2 linked regions of the Homo sapiens genome follow. The protein of the gene in region 2 purifies or fractionates together with the protein of the main gene of each other region. This does not show direct contact. Each region holds a gene or a part of one and is shown on either strand. Other genes may lie near its edges.

Region 1 (7,028 bases), on a different chromosome or scaffold from region 2:
AGAAAAAATACCAAACTTAAGAACAATTTGATTCTAACTCACTAGATAACATTAGACTAACCACTTTACCTTTCTGGACCTTAGCTTCCTCATCAGTAAAATTATGGGTGTTGGATGGCATAAAAACTTAAATTTCTAAATTCCTTCACAATTTTCAAAACACTGTCACAGGTATTTCATTTCACTCCACTGAGCAGGGACTTTGTTTTATTCACTGCTGTATCCCCAGCATCTGGTTGGTACAAAGTATGCCCAAAATATTAGTTGAATAAGATGAATTTTGATCCTGACAATTATCCTGAGAGGAACACAGAACAGGGCAGTTATTATTACACTTATTTTACATATGAGAAAAACCAAGGTTCAGAGTTTAAAGACACTTGCTCACAGTCCCATAGCTAGAGGTGGAGCTAGAATGCAAACTCAAGTTTTCAGATTACTAGTTCAAATCTCTTCCCAGGTCTAAAATGTGTTACACATTTTTATATATTTTTCAATAGTCAGGCACAAGAATAATGAATTCTTCCTATTCTCACCCTTTCAAAGAAAAAAAAAGTCATCAGGATAGTGTTGCTATAGAAAGCAATAAAAAATATTTAGAAGAGTTATCTGAAAGAATACCTAACACTCAATAATGGTGCATATGAAATAAAAGAGATTAAATTCAAATTCTGACTTTCTTTGATTATACCAATTATATGTTCTGTGTTCCACAGTGAGTCTGCATCTGTAATTCTGGCTGGCTACTTTGTAAATTCTTGCTCCTAATCACGAGGGATGAGGAGTACAAATCTATCTCTGTAACAATTATTGTTCAAATCATAAAACTTGTGCCAGGCTCCCCAATGAGGTTGGGAAACACATCCAATGCCCTTCCTCTAGCCAACTCCAAATCTAAAGCTTTATAATCAATGGAGATAGAGGAAAGGGCCTGAGAGGGCAGCATGGCTGGAAATACCTAGCAGGGCAATCTTTGCGTGTGATGGTAGCAACATATTTTAATGGAATAAAAAAAAAAAATCTACAAACTCATCCAAACATAAAATCTTTCTTTCAAAAATAAATAATTTCTAGAACACAAGTATTCCCTTTCACATAACGTTGCCCATTAAAAGGCTTTCAAAAAGTTAGACATCAAGGATGGAGGGGAAAAAAAGCCTTCAAAAATAAAAATGAAAGTAAACATAATTTAAACAGGTGTGAAATAGCCTCCCATCAAAAAAAATCAAGCAGTTTAAGTACAAGAATAGAAGTCAAAACACTTTCATCATATGGGAAGCAGTATATAGCTGGTTTGTAAAGTAAGAATTTTAGTATATCTGACAAAAAAAGTTTGTTAAAACAAACTCACCAAAATATACTTCTTTTCTGAAAAATATAAACTTGAATATTTTCCACTGACTTATGTTCCTTTGGTCCCTTCTCGTCCAAGAGGACTTCCAATAGATATGTGTCATAATTAGGAGAAGGGTTACAGCAAAACTATGTGGAGAAGAGCAGTTACACTGAAACTAATCTATTTTCATAGCACTCACATAAAACAGAGGGTCTAGGGAAGGGGGAGGGGGGAAGTAGCAATAAGTGGGGTAACAGATTTGAAAAGTCACCTGATTTGGACCCTAAAGAAAAAACTACCAAACAGACTTAGAAAGCAGGGCTTAATCAAAATAACATTCTGTAAAAACCTAAAATCTGGGGTAATTTAAAGGTTTTAAGAGCTCTAGTTGTAAAATCTTGGAGTTATCCCACAGTAATAATCTGCTGTTCTACTTACCTTTTAATAAACAATTCCTCCCCTTAAAAGTTGTTTTCCTTACTGGTACAAACCATACATCTAAATTTTTCTGCATAAATACAATGTCGTGTCCTTACCTAGTAGCAAACTGAATGAGTGCGTTTTGAAGAGTCTGCCTAATTTCAAGAAGAAAAGATTCATCATCGCTTAGTGTATAATACCAATACTGGACATAATCCCTCAAGGAAAACTGGATAACCTATAACAAAAATATTGGAAAAAAAATTACAACATTTTAGGATTTAAAAAGTTACAGTGGTAAACTAAAAAAGTATGCTGTATCTACCAATTTATATTTACTCTCTACGTATTAATTTATGGTGGTAAATACCTGCCCTCATTACAAAAACATCAACATACTAAAAACCATTTCAAACATTTTTAAATTATTCTGGTATCCCAACTTACCTACTGCCTAGATTTAAAAAAAAAAATAAAATAAAACACTATCTATGGCCAAGTCCCACATAAATCCAGGTAAAGACAGGGTTTGCAGAAAAAAAAGAAACTTTCCATGCTATAATCTAATAAATAATATCAATCAGTTTAATGGAATGAGATGTAAAATAATAGAGACTATAATTCCACAAAAAAAGTTTTTTTAAAGATTATATCATCAGATCCATTGCAGTCTAATTATAAAAATGATACAGGAGTTCACTTATTTCTACTAATACCTTTGATACTGCCAACAGTATTCAGACAATAAATAGTACATAATACAACTCAATGTATAATTTTTACAAATCAGATAAACTAAATATTAGTAATAATAATAAATGTTAAAATTCTAAAGTACACATTTTTATAATCATATAATCAAACATCAATGAAAAATATTTCAGGGGGCATAGTTTTTTTACCTATCTCTAATTTTTTAATGTTTTTGCATCGGATATTTCTTTTCCATTTTTTAAAAGGTAACAAGTAGGAAAAAAAGTCTGATTTACCACACCACTAAGCTTGTTCATCAACGAAAGAGTAACACTTTAACTGTAAAATTTTAAGAAACACTATCAAATGTCAATAACAACTTTTTTTCTAAATCCAAATTCAATCGAAAGGCTTTTACATAAAGTAAACCACCTCATTAGAAGTGAGTTAATAAATAAGGAAGCATCTTCAAGTATAAAATTCAAGGATAACATTAAGAAATTCCAGGATATTATTTAAAGAGCAAAAAGTATTTCCTGGTATCTTCAAAAGAAATATACCTAGAACACAATATATAGAATTCAAATACCACACGCTGAAACTCACTTGCTGGAGAGGTTCATCAATTATATTGGCACCCGTCAATCTTCTATCAATCTTAATAGTCCTGGCTTCCCGTTTCATTTCTTCTAAGCACTTAAAGGAAATCAAAATATCTTACTGAGTAGTTTTCTGATGTAAAATCTCTCCAGTTTAATTCCAGTTGAATACTCAATGTAACATCCCTTCATTATCCTCAAGTAAATAAATAACCTTATTTGAGGTGCTACTCTATAAGCCAAACACTATTTCTCAAGTTAACAAAATTAGACACTCCCAAAAAAATGATTATCCTCAAAAATTTAATCAGCAAAAATTATTTAGAATGTGGGAAAACTGCAAATGTACAGGTATGCTGCTGCCATATTTCAATGAAACTCTACAACTATAAAATTAGTGTTTCATGTGAGTCAAACTGTCTTTACTGGACACTCTCCCTCTTGCCCCTCCCCTTTCCCAGCCCAAAACAGTATACCAGCTGCAAAATAATTAATTTTTAAACGGATTTTATGTAGGGATAGTTTTGGCAACTTAAGAAAATGTACTTCTCTACTTTTTTGTGTTCAGAAAGATCAGTGGCCTGAAAATTGGGGAAAAGGTAGTGGGAGATTCTTAAAAAAACAAACCATAAATATATATAAACATAGATACAGATATAGACATAGATATCTATATTAAAAATACATGCTTCAAAGTTATAATATGAAACCACGGATATTTTTTCATAAGACATACTTAGAAATCATATTTTAGAAATAGCAAATAAAACCCATTGTTTTATACTATCTATTAAAAATGGATTATAAAGACTTAACCATTCTTGAATATAATTTATTACTGTTAAGGATCTTAATTCTTAAAATATTTCCTATTCTCTGTATATGCCACTCAAATGAAGTACACTATAAATAGCTAAGAAATGGTTCAAAAAAGGAAAGGTTAATTTCCTAAGACTTATAAGTAAAAAAAAAAAAATACATATTAATATGAGTCCTAAAGGAGAGAAAGGTTTCAGATTATAAAAAAGTTTAAGTATTAAAAAATTTGTTTATCAATATAAAAGTCAGTGGAATAGAGTGAAATTCTTTTATTAATGTAAAATAATATTGGACATTATTTACTTCTACATCTCCTGCACCTTAGCATGTAACAGATAAATTAATAACTGTAAAGAAAGTTGTTATTAGCATCAACTCCAGGCCATCTGCCTCTCTTCATACAAAATGAAACCAACCCAACTGCACAAGAATTGAAGGCACTACAATCTGAAACTTACACAATTCCAATTTTATTTATAGAGTATGATACTGAAAAAATAATAGCACCATTCAAGATGATAAAAATTAGGCCTGAATTATTAAAATTATAGATACTGCATAATCTAATTACAAGCTGTATTTTTCAAAGTAATGAAAAGTATCCATTTTTTCCTCTGATTCCTCTGCAATTTATTTCATTCAAACCAGAATACTCATTGACATTGTTAAAAATCATATGCATGATGCTTTGAAATACTATGATAAGACAGCAGGAAAAATACCCAAAATAAACTAACCAATTTCTATCGTTTTCTCAAGTTTGTATTCCCACTTTTTAAATCTAACACTAAGAAAGTTTTTAAGATGGCCTTTTAAAATATATTTTCTAAGTATAATTAGACAATCTCACATAAATTCCCAGTGAGCATTAGTAAACTATACGAAAATTTGTCACGCTATATATACAGATGATTACTCTATTATCATTGCAAAGAACTGGACTTTGAGGTTTTATATTCCCTCAAACGATTTACCTTAGGAACCCCAGGTGATGTTGGAGGAAGAAATGAGTGTTCACACTGTTCTAGGTACTTCTCTGAGTTTGTTTTTCCAAACAGGAGAGTAACCACTAAACCCCTAGAAAGAAAAATTTAATCACAAATATAAAAACAAAATTTCCTTATAATTTAATGAATCTACTACCAAGTATATTTTCCAGAGTTCACAGATGGCTTATCATTTACTAAAAAGTCAATTTGTGACTTTGGCAAAGCAAGAAATTGACAGATTGTATTAGGTTCTGAAGTTTAAAACAACTATGAACATTTTGTGAATTATACAATAATACTTTTTAAAGTTTTAATCCAATATATTTCCTAAAGAATCTTGTGACAAGGCCAGGTGTGGTGGCTCATGCCTGTAATCCCAGCACTTTGGGAGGCCAAGACAGGAGGATCACAAGGTCAGGAGTTCGAGACCAGCTTGACCAACATGGTGAAACCCCGTCTCTACTAAAAATACAAAAATTAGCCAGGGTGGTGGCTTGCACCTGTAGTCCCAGCTACTTGGGAGGCTGAGGCAGGAGAATCGCTGGAACCTGGGAGGCAGAGATTGCAGTGAACTGAGATCACGCCACTGCACTTGAGCCTGGGTGACAGATCAAGACTGTCTCGAAAAAAAAAAAAAAACTTAAGTGACATTTTTCAAACTTAAAAAAAAATCAGGCTGAGCACAGTGGCTCACACCTGTAATCCCAGCACCTTGGGAGGCCGAGGCAGGTGGCTCATCTGAGGTCAGGAGATCGAGACCACCCTGACCAACATGGTGAAACCCCGTCTCTACTAAAAACACAAAAATTAGCTGGGTGTGGTGACATGCACCTGTAATCCCAGCTACTCAGGAGGCTGAGGTAGGAAAATTGCTTGAACCGGGGAGGCAGAGGATGCAGTGAGCCGAGATCGCGCCACTGCACTCTAGCGACAGAGTAAGACTCGCCTCAAAAAAAAAAAGAAAAGAAAAATCAGCCCTTATTAAACAAGTAGGCTAGCTAATAACCATGGATAAAGACAAATGAATCTAAATATGTAGCTAAATGACAGAATTCTATAGTTCTGTTAACCAATTCACGTGAGGTATTACATTATTATAACTTTCCAGTATGAATACAGAATACATAAAGGCTATTTAGGGAAAAAAAAATCTAATCTATGATTTGTTTAAAATAAGGCTGGAATTAAGAAAATATAAATGTATCCCAAAAAAAGTTAATTATTTTGAAAAATAATTACAGGATCAAGGAAGATAAATGGTGATTTAGAACTACTTCACTCTAAGTATTGACTAAATATTATCAATATTTCATAGATTTTAAATTTACCAATAAAGCAAAGTGTTGGAAATCCATCAAAAAACATTTAATCTAATAATGATCTTATAGTAATGTTACAATGATTCAAAGACTGTAATGACAGGAAGGGAACAGTAAAACATTAAATATTGTCAGTCTCAACTACTGAAAGGAAGATTCTCAAAGTCCTCCAATTTTTGTGTCTACCTGCCCTCTCACTAGTCCTCAGTACAAGTATCACAAAAGCAGGGGTTGGGGGTTGAGAACATGGATAAAGTCAAATCAGTTTAAGTCATTAATTCTGTTTTTGTTATTTGTAAAAGGCTGGTCTCAGAATTACTGCTAAATGTCATCTATCTGTGTTATATCTGATATTATTATTAAGATTCAAGTTGGCCCTCTATTTCAGTTTTACCTGGTTATTAAGCATATTTATAGACAAAATAAAATGTTTATATTAACACTGTGTTATTAAAAACATCATCAAGAAACAGACTGATAAGACATTAATTTTTGCCCACAAGTGTGTAACGATAGGAAGACAAGATAAAGAGCAGTCTGATTTTAAAAGAACCTAAATAGTAGTTTCAGCTGTAAAGTTTAAGTAATAATTTAAACTGTAGTTGGGTGCCATAAATTAATTATATAACCCAACAAATACAACAGAATGCCACAAAATAACCATAATGCAGTAAGATGAAAGTATCCTACAACAACAAAAACGAAAAATCCCCAAGTGTTTTTCTTTCCAAAAGCATTCTTTATATTAAAAAATAAGGAGTTAACTTTGACTATAAGCAAAATATAGACATTATCAACACTTGACAAGAATAAACTATGCAAGTTAAAAACTTAAGTTTTATTAGAAAAACAA
Region 2 (7,028 bases):
CTCAAAGAGGAAAACCAGCTCCCAAGATTTTTATTCTGTTATGCAGTAAAAGCAAGTCAAGGATTCAGATGGCATTTCTTCAAAATCAAGGGTTTTATCAGAAAAAATACAAGAATTGAATGCCATATGACATCTATGTCAAATGGTCTCCGAAGGACCTCACTACCTTGGCCTTCATCAGGACCAGGTGAGTGGGAACTGAGAGGCAGGACTGTGGCAGCCTGTGGCGATGAGAAGGCTGTGTTAGTCTGGAAATGCATGGCAGCTCCTTTAGGTACCAGTGTTTCTGATCTCCCCATTATTTTCCTCATGCCATTTCCTAAGAAAAAGCTCACAGTAAGAAAAACTTCCTTCAGGTAAGAGTATATTTTATAATTGACCAATGCTTAATTCTCTGCAGTGATGGAAGGGTGGTGCAATTCAGGCCACAATAAAATCAGGAGTGTTCCATTCATCTCTGCAAAGAACACTGGGCTATACATTTGTGCCAGATGCACCTTCAGTTTGTTTAAATTGTTATAAAGTTAACTTGCATGGGTCAACCAACATTGCTGGGGGCAGTTTAGAAGTGCTGGAGAAATATAAGCTCAGGGGAAGGAAACTAACTTGGGATGAAAAGCTTGCTGCAAATGATAGAGCAGATAATTTACATATAGACAGTGGAAAATGTGTTGTTTATTTGGTGATTATACATAATGTCTTTTCTCTTAACAATACAGGGAGAAGGAGAAGGAGATTAGGGAACATCAAGAATTAGGAGAAAGACGATGGCTGTGTAGTTTTCTTGCTTTTTATTTTTTTGAGATAGGGTCTTACTCTGTTGCCCAGGCTGGAGTGCAGTGGCCTGATCACAGCTCACTGCAGTCTTGACCTCCCAGGCTCAATCCATCCTCCCACCTCCTCCTCCCACTACAAGCATGTGCAACCACATCCAGCTATTTTTTTCTATTTTTTGGTAGAGATGGGGCCTTACTTTGTTGTCCAGACTGGTCTTGAACTCCCGGGCACAAGTGATCCTCTTGCCTCAGCCTCCCAAAGTGCTGGGATTACAGGTGTGAGCCACCATGCCCAGCCTATGTAGTCTTCTTTATACTATACAGCAAAATGAAATGTCATAGACTACTGGCTAAGGATTCCAGGGAGCAGATGGCTTTCTCAAATGAAGATCAAATATGTACAGAACTAAAATCTGGTCTACCAAGTCACAGAAGTGAACTGAACTCAATGTCTGCCTTACTTACCTCATCAAGGGGATAAGCCCGGAGAGGAAAAAAATGGTCTTTTCTAGGTTCAGCGGACCTCCTCCTTGGAACATCCAGCTGGCTCTCATCCTAGGCCTGCCCTCTGCATATATAATCACTTATCTTGGAGGCCACAATGACTACTGTGACATCTCATCTATATAGAGCTTTACATAAGCAAAGACAACACATTAAACAATATTTATTTATAGTGGTTGGGAGAACTACTTTGGAGCAGATAAACAATTCTTAATTATTGATCAATAAATAATGATCTTCATCCAGTTTTAGTTGTTACAGAATGACAGTGGTTAAAAAAATGTTTCAAATGGAACTAAGGCTAGATTAGAAAAGCCAAAACAATTTGTTTACTAAGAAGTTAGCATGGGTGGAATCTAGCAGAAATTGTGAAAGTCTAGCTTGGTGCTCTATAGAGATTTTTCTTAAAAGCCATTTTACCAGGACCTGTTTGAGGTCAGGAAGGTGCAGCACTGGTCCATTCACAGAAGGCTAGATAGACTCTGGCGGGAGCAGGGAGACAAAGTCGGCTTCCTGGATGAGTGACAGCAACTTCCAATGCACCCCTGGCCCTGCTCAGCCTTGCTCTGCCACCCCTGTTAATAAGCTGACTCTTTCCCAATCACCATTACGATGTGGAGGACAGAGCTTGGTACACATCCTGGAATATCTGCCAACTGTTCTTCTAGAAATTCACCTCTTCTGGGTGTTCAGAATATATAATGATGCCCTTAGGGTAATAAACACATGCGTGCATACGGTACGTAGGTGTAAAGGAGTTGTAGTGGATAAAAATGGGGGTTCTACGCATTTGGGTTTGAATCAGACTCTGGCACTTACTGGTCCTATAATCTTGGGCAAGCCACTTAACCTCTCTAACCCCAGCTTCCTCATCTGCAAAGTGAAGGTAATAATAGTGCCTCCTAAAGAGACTAAATGAGTTCATGTTACACACTGAGAACAGTAAGTGCCTCACACTTTGTGCTATTATGTTGGTAGACTTGCTAATGTTACCTTCAAACCAAAAGCTTAATCTTCAAGATAGGAAACATCGCTCCCATGGTTCCAATAATGTGGTTTGCTGCAGCCGTCCTCTACTAATTTTTATTTTAGATCCACACTCCCTCTTTCCATGACAGCTGGAATTCCTTTCGGTTTTCTAAATCTTCTATACTAGAAAGTCAGTAGCCTTTTGTGGAAACTATGTCTCCTCTCTTTAATGTTTTTAAGACCCCATAAGAGAAAAATATGAATAGATATATTTATGAGTGAAAGAATAACTATATTTAGGCTAGGGCTGTCAAGAAGACCTTTCTCCAATGATGTAAATGTCCTATATCTCTGCTGTCCAGCGTTGTGGCCACTAGGCACCTATGGCTATGGAGCTCTGAAATGTAGCTAGTGGGACTGAGAAAATGAAGGTTACATTTTATTTAGTTTTAATTAATTTAAATAGCTACATGTGATCAGTAGCATAGTCGCCGCATTGGACAGTGCAGGTCTAGAATTCACAAGTTTGTCAGAGCTTCAACCTTCCTCTCCGATAGTCTGTAGACTTGGAGTGGTTATGAGTACAGACTCTGGGGACACACATAGAGACACAGCTCTGCCACTGGCCAGCTCTCAAGTCTCTTCAATGCTTCAGACCTCTGTTTTCTCATATGTAAACTGGGGATGATAACTGCTACTATTTCATAGGGTTGTTGTGAGGATTAAATTAGTTAATAAATGCTTAGGAAAGCAGCTGGCACATAGTGTACATTTATATAGTGCTTACTATTCTTCAAGTTTTTGCTCCTGAAATTAACTTTTTAAACTGTCTCTTGATATATACCCTTTCTCAATTTCCATGTTACTTTTCCTCTGCCTGAAACTGATCAGCAGTGTTCCCAACCTCTCTCCTTCCTGCTTCTTCTCCCATATGCCTTAGTATTTTTAGGCATCTCTTTGTACCTGTTTCTGGAATGCATCAAGACTAAATCTGACACTGAATATAATCTCCCTGATCACAGGCTTCAGATTTTCCAAGTTAGCAGCATTTCTTATACCTTATATTCTACACGTTCCAATAAATTAAAACAATGAAAAAAGCATGGGGTTTAAAGTCAGAAGACCTGGGACATACCACCTACTGTGCCTGACTTTCAGCTTTCACAACTGTAAAATGGGAATAATTACACTATTTCGTGAGATTGTTGTGATTCATGATCAGGTGGGATAACGCATATGAAAGCACTTCGTAAACTGAAGCATTGTTATTTTTGTTCCCAATCAAATTCAAAGAGGATGAAAAAGGCAGGCCAAGGTAACCCGAGTTAATTCATCTGTAAGATGTGCTCCCAGCCCATCTGGTATTTCCATCTTGCTGGCAGCATTCTCTCTTTAATTCCTTAGCAACCATGACATGATTTGTTTCAGTGCTCAGTATAGCATCACTTGTTTTAAGGGAGCAGCTTCGCGATATTAACTGTCAAGGTTGGGGGATAGAGGTTACGTTCTCTTTTGTCACACATGGTTGGAGACCCAAAGACACTTCATGGCTGATGTTCTAGAACAACAAGGTGAAATGCAATGAACAATGGACAGGTGGCCTCCCGGTAATTCCAGAAAGCATCAAGTATTAGCGTAAAAAAGAGACTTAATAAAGGTAAAGTGGTAACTGAAATTAAAAGAACTGCCAAAAACAAGCCAAGTGAGTAAGCCAAGAAGCAGGGCACACCCTGCTTCAGTCAGAAACAAGTGCCACTGCTGAATCTCTGACCTCTTCAGGCCACATCTAAAACAGGGGTTCTCAAAGCATGTTCCCAGACCAGCAACACGAGCATCACCTGGGAGCTTGTTAGAAATGCAGACCCACTGAATCCGAATAAAGCTGAATAAGCTCCCTATGTGATCTGTACGCACGTTAAAGTTTGAGAGGCACTGATCACCAAAGGTTTTCCCATTGCTTTTCCTTGGCCTCCACTTAGTAGCACAGAAGTGGGAAAGGAAATAAACAGATCCTGCTCCAGGGTCAGTGCACACAACTACCTTAGCTGGAGCCATGCTTAACTCTATTAGGTACTGAGGGATTGGGAGAAAGGGGATGCCAAAAGGACACAGTCCCTGCCCTCAAGGAGCAAAGACTAAACAGGGAATAAATTCTAATCAAAGGCAAAATGGAGGCTAAATAAAGGCATGAGTGCCTCAAGATCAAGGGCTGTGTCTTAATCATCTTTGAATTCCCAGCACTTGGCAGGGAACGGTGGAGGAAGTGATCTCTCCTTTTGACTCCATGCCCTTGATAAACTCCAAGCCTCTTGCTACCTTGCTTGCTTAGCTGGATGTAAAACACCTGCCTGCTTTGTTGTGACTTTATGAACCTCTTGGATTCTAGATTCTACTTTCCCATTTGTACTTCTAGTATTTAAAAACAACTATTACTGATATGTTATTATTTACTGTATGCATGAACCATACTTATAACCTTACATATATTAACTCATTTTATGTGCACAAAGTTCACAGATATTAGTAGTTTATTATGTCCATTATACAGATGAGAAAATGGAGGCTCAAAGAGGTTAAACAACTTGCCCAAAGTCCCCTAGGTAGTAAAGAGTGGAGGCAGGAATAGAGTCAGGCAGTATGATGTCAGTATCCACTGCCCAGGTTTTGGATTCCTGGATTTGAACTGCCACGCTGCATAGGTCTGTCCGAGGTCTACCGGAACCCTGGCACCATAGCTGTGGCTTCTTCAGACTGTCCCCTCTTGTAGGCTATCTGTTCCTCCTAGCAATTCTAGGTCCACACTAGGGGACACTGGCCCCTGGTACTCTCTTTCCACCTTGACAAAAATCAGAAATGAAGATTCTCCTCCAGCGAGGCTGAGAACATTCCTATCTGCCTTATGGGCTGGTCTCCAAAGAATACTTTCTTTAGGTATTTTTTCCTAAACCAATGTCTCTGACAGGTGATTGCTCTGAAGTTACTGTTTGAAATAAGTTTGGGAAAGAGTGGAAGGTGACCTCTATGAGATTCATGTGAGTCAAACTTCTTTGACTCCCAAGCCTGCAAGACACTGTCTTTCTTAAATGTACCTGTTAGGCATCCCCAAGTGAAAACCCAAAGCTGTATTAATAATGGTGAGAAGGAAAGGAGGGCAACTTCAGACTTGCCATATATGGAATCTGCTTTTCAACAATGAACAGCTCTGCTTCCTGTGGGTCAGTAACGCTGAGCAGCTAGTGCAGCACAATGATAGGAAAACACTGACCATACAACAATAAACCAAGGAATAAACAGCGCCCAGGTTTTCCTTTAAGCCAACATATGCGGCTTGGTGGGGGTGTAGTGTTTTATTTATATTGCTATGCAACGTAGGAAAAAAAAAGGTGATTTCAATGAAAGGCACAGGAATATGCTGTGCTATCTGATCGCAGGTCTGAATTTAGACATGACAGATGTTGGGAGGGGTTTCACATTTGACATCAACCACGATAAGAGAAATTAATGTAGTGGGGTTAATGGCTAGGCTTTATTTTGTTTTTAAAAATTCAGTGGTGAGTACAGTCAGCGGCCCTGGGCCAGGGAATACTGTGCTGGCTCTGGCAGGGCCTGGTTGTATGTTTATGAAACCAGGAGCACAGCCTAGGGAAACTTAAAGCAAGCTGCCAGAGGAGGCTGCAAATTGATCTGTTAAATCGCAGATCACCAAACAGAACCTGTCCCACCTCTATGCTTACTTCTGGCGAGGTTCTGATTGGAAGGAAGTGCTGTCACCCAAGGAACCCCGTAACTCCGAGGGGCAGGCACATGAGCTTCTAAGGGTGTGTGTAAATTTATACTTCAGTCACAGCTAAAGTCTGGCCTTCTAGGAAAACTATCCCCCACCCCTTTCCCAAACTTCCCACGAAGCCCTCCAACCACAAAAAAACAACTTTAGAAACTTGAGTGGGGCTTTTCTGGAATCAGGTTCCCTCAGTTACAGTGAAGGCAGATATCTAGATACTTTATCCCACACTTTCCCTTAAGTCATGAGGTGCCTGTTTCAGTTGCCTCTTCGCTCTAGTTGCTGCCTCCACCCCCACCCCCCATGAAACTGGGGGAGAGGAAGGTCCTTCATGTCCTACTGCATGCCTTCTATATGCTAGGCACTATTCTAGCACTGGGGATACAGCTATGAGCAAAACAGAAAAAACAAAATTCCTGCTCTCAGAGTGTTTTAAGTTCTAGTGGGGAAAATCCACAAGTACAAATTGACAAGATAAGGTGTAGTTATCCTCAAATGAAGACAAATGGCAAGTCACTTGGCAAACTTATATACTATTCCCCACCAAGAAAGGAATCAGGAGAAAGAGAGCTAACATTTATTGAATGCTTCCTATGTGCCGATAACAAAAATAATAATTAATATTTTTGAGCATTTACTATGTCCTAGGCTCATAGGAAGTTGAGGTCACATACTTTATATATTCCCTCTTAATCCTCTCAATATTTCTGTTACTCCAATAGCACAGATGAGAAAACAAGCCTAGAAGTAACAATAACTTGCTCAAGTACACCCTGTTTGTGCAGGCACGCCCTGCTTGGGATCTCTGCACTCCAGCCTGATGGCTTCGACAGTCAGATGGTGGCGCACACTCCCCCTTGCTCTGCTCCTCTGCTGGTGGATGGTGCGTCACCCCCTCGCTTTGCCCAGCTCCATTCTACCAGTCCTTCCAGGTTTAGCTCGAATAGCTCCTTCTTAAGGAGAACTTTTCTGGCTCCTCATCATGACTGTGATCCTTT

What was found. Proteins that work in one complex are often made in the same cells at the same time.
Region 1: the proteins of TSPAN2 (region 2) and SNX13 purify together in Homo sapiens (co-immunoprecipitation; 3 studies listed by BioGRID and IntAct, with this or other methods). This does not show direct contact.

The regions. Positions count from the first base shown.
Region 1 is NC_000007.14:17,888,491-17,895,518, forward strand, and holds part of SNX13 (sorting nexin-13), read right to left. Parts: intron 4,945-7,028; coding exon 4,842-4,944; intron 3,146-4,841; coding exon 3,056-3,145; intron 1,995-3,055; coding exon 1,873-1,994; intron 299-1,872; exon of another isoform or gene 70-298; intron 1-69. UniProt on the Homo sapiens protein: May be involved in several stages of intracellular trafficking. May play a role in endosome homeostasis. Acts as a GAP for Galphas.
Region 2 is NC_000001.11:115,079,501-115,086,528, forward strand, and holds part of TSPAN2 (tetraspanin-2), read right to left. Parts: intron 1-7,028. UniProt on the Homo sapiens protein: May play a role in signalling in oligodendrocytes in the early stages of their terminal differentiation into myelin-forming glia and may also function in stabilizing the mature sheath.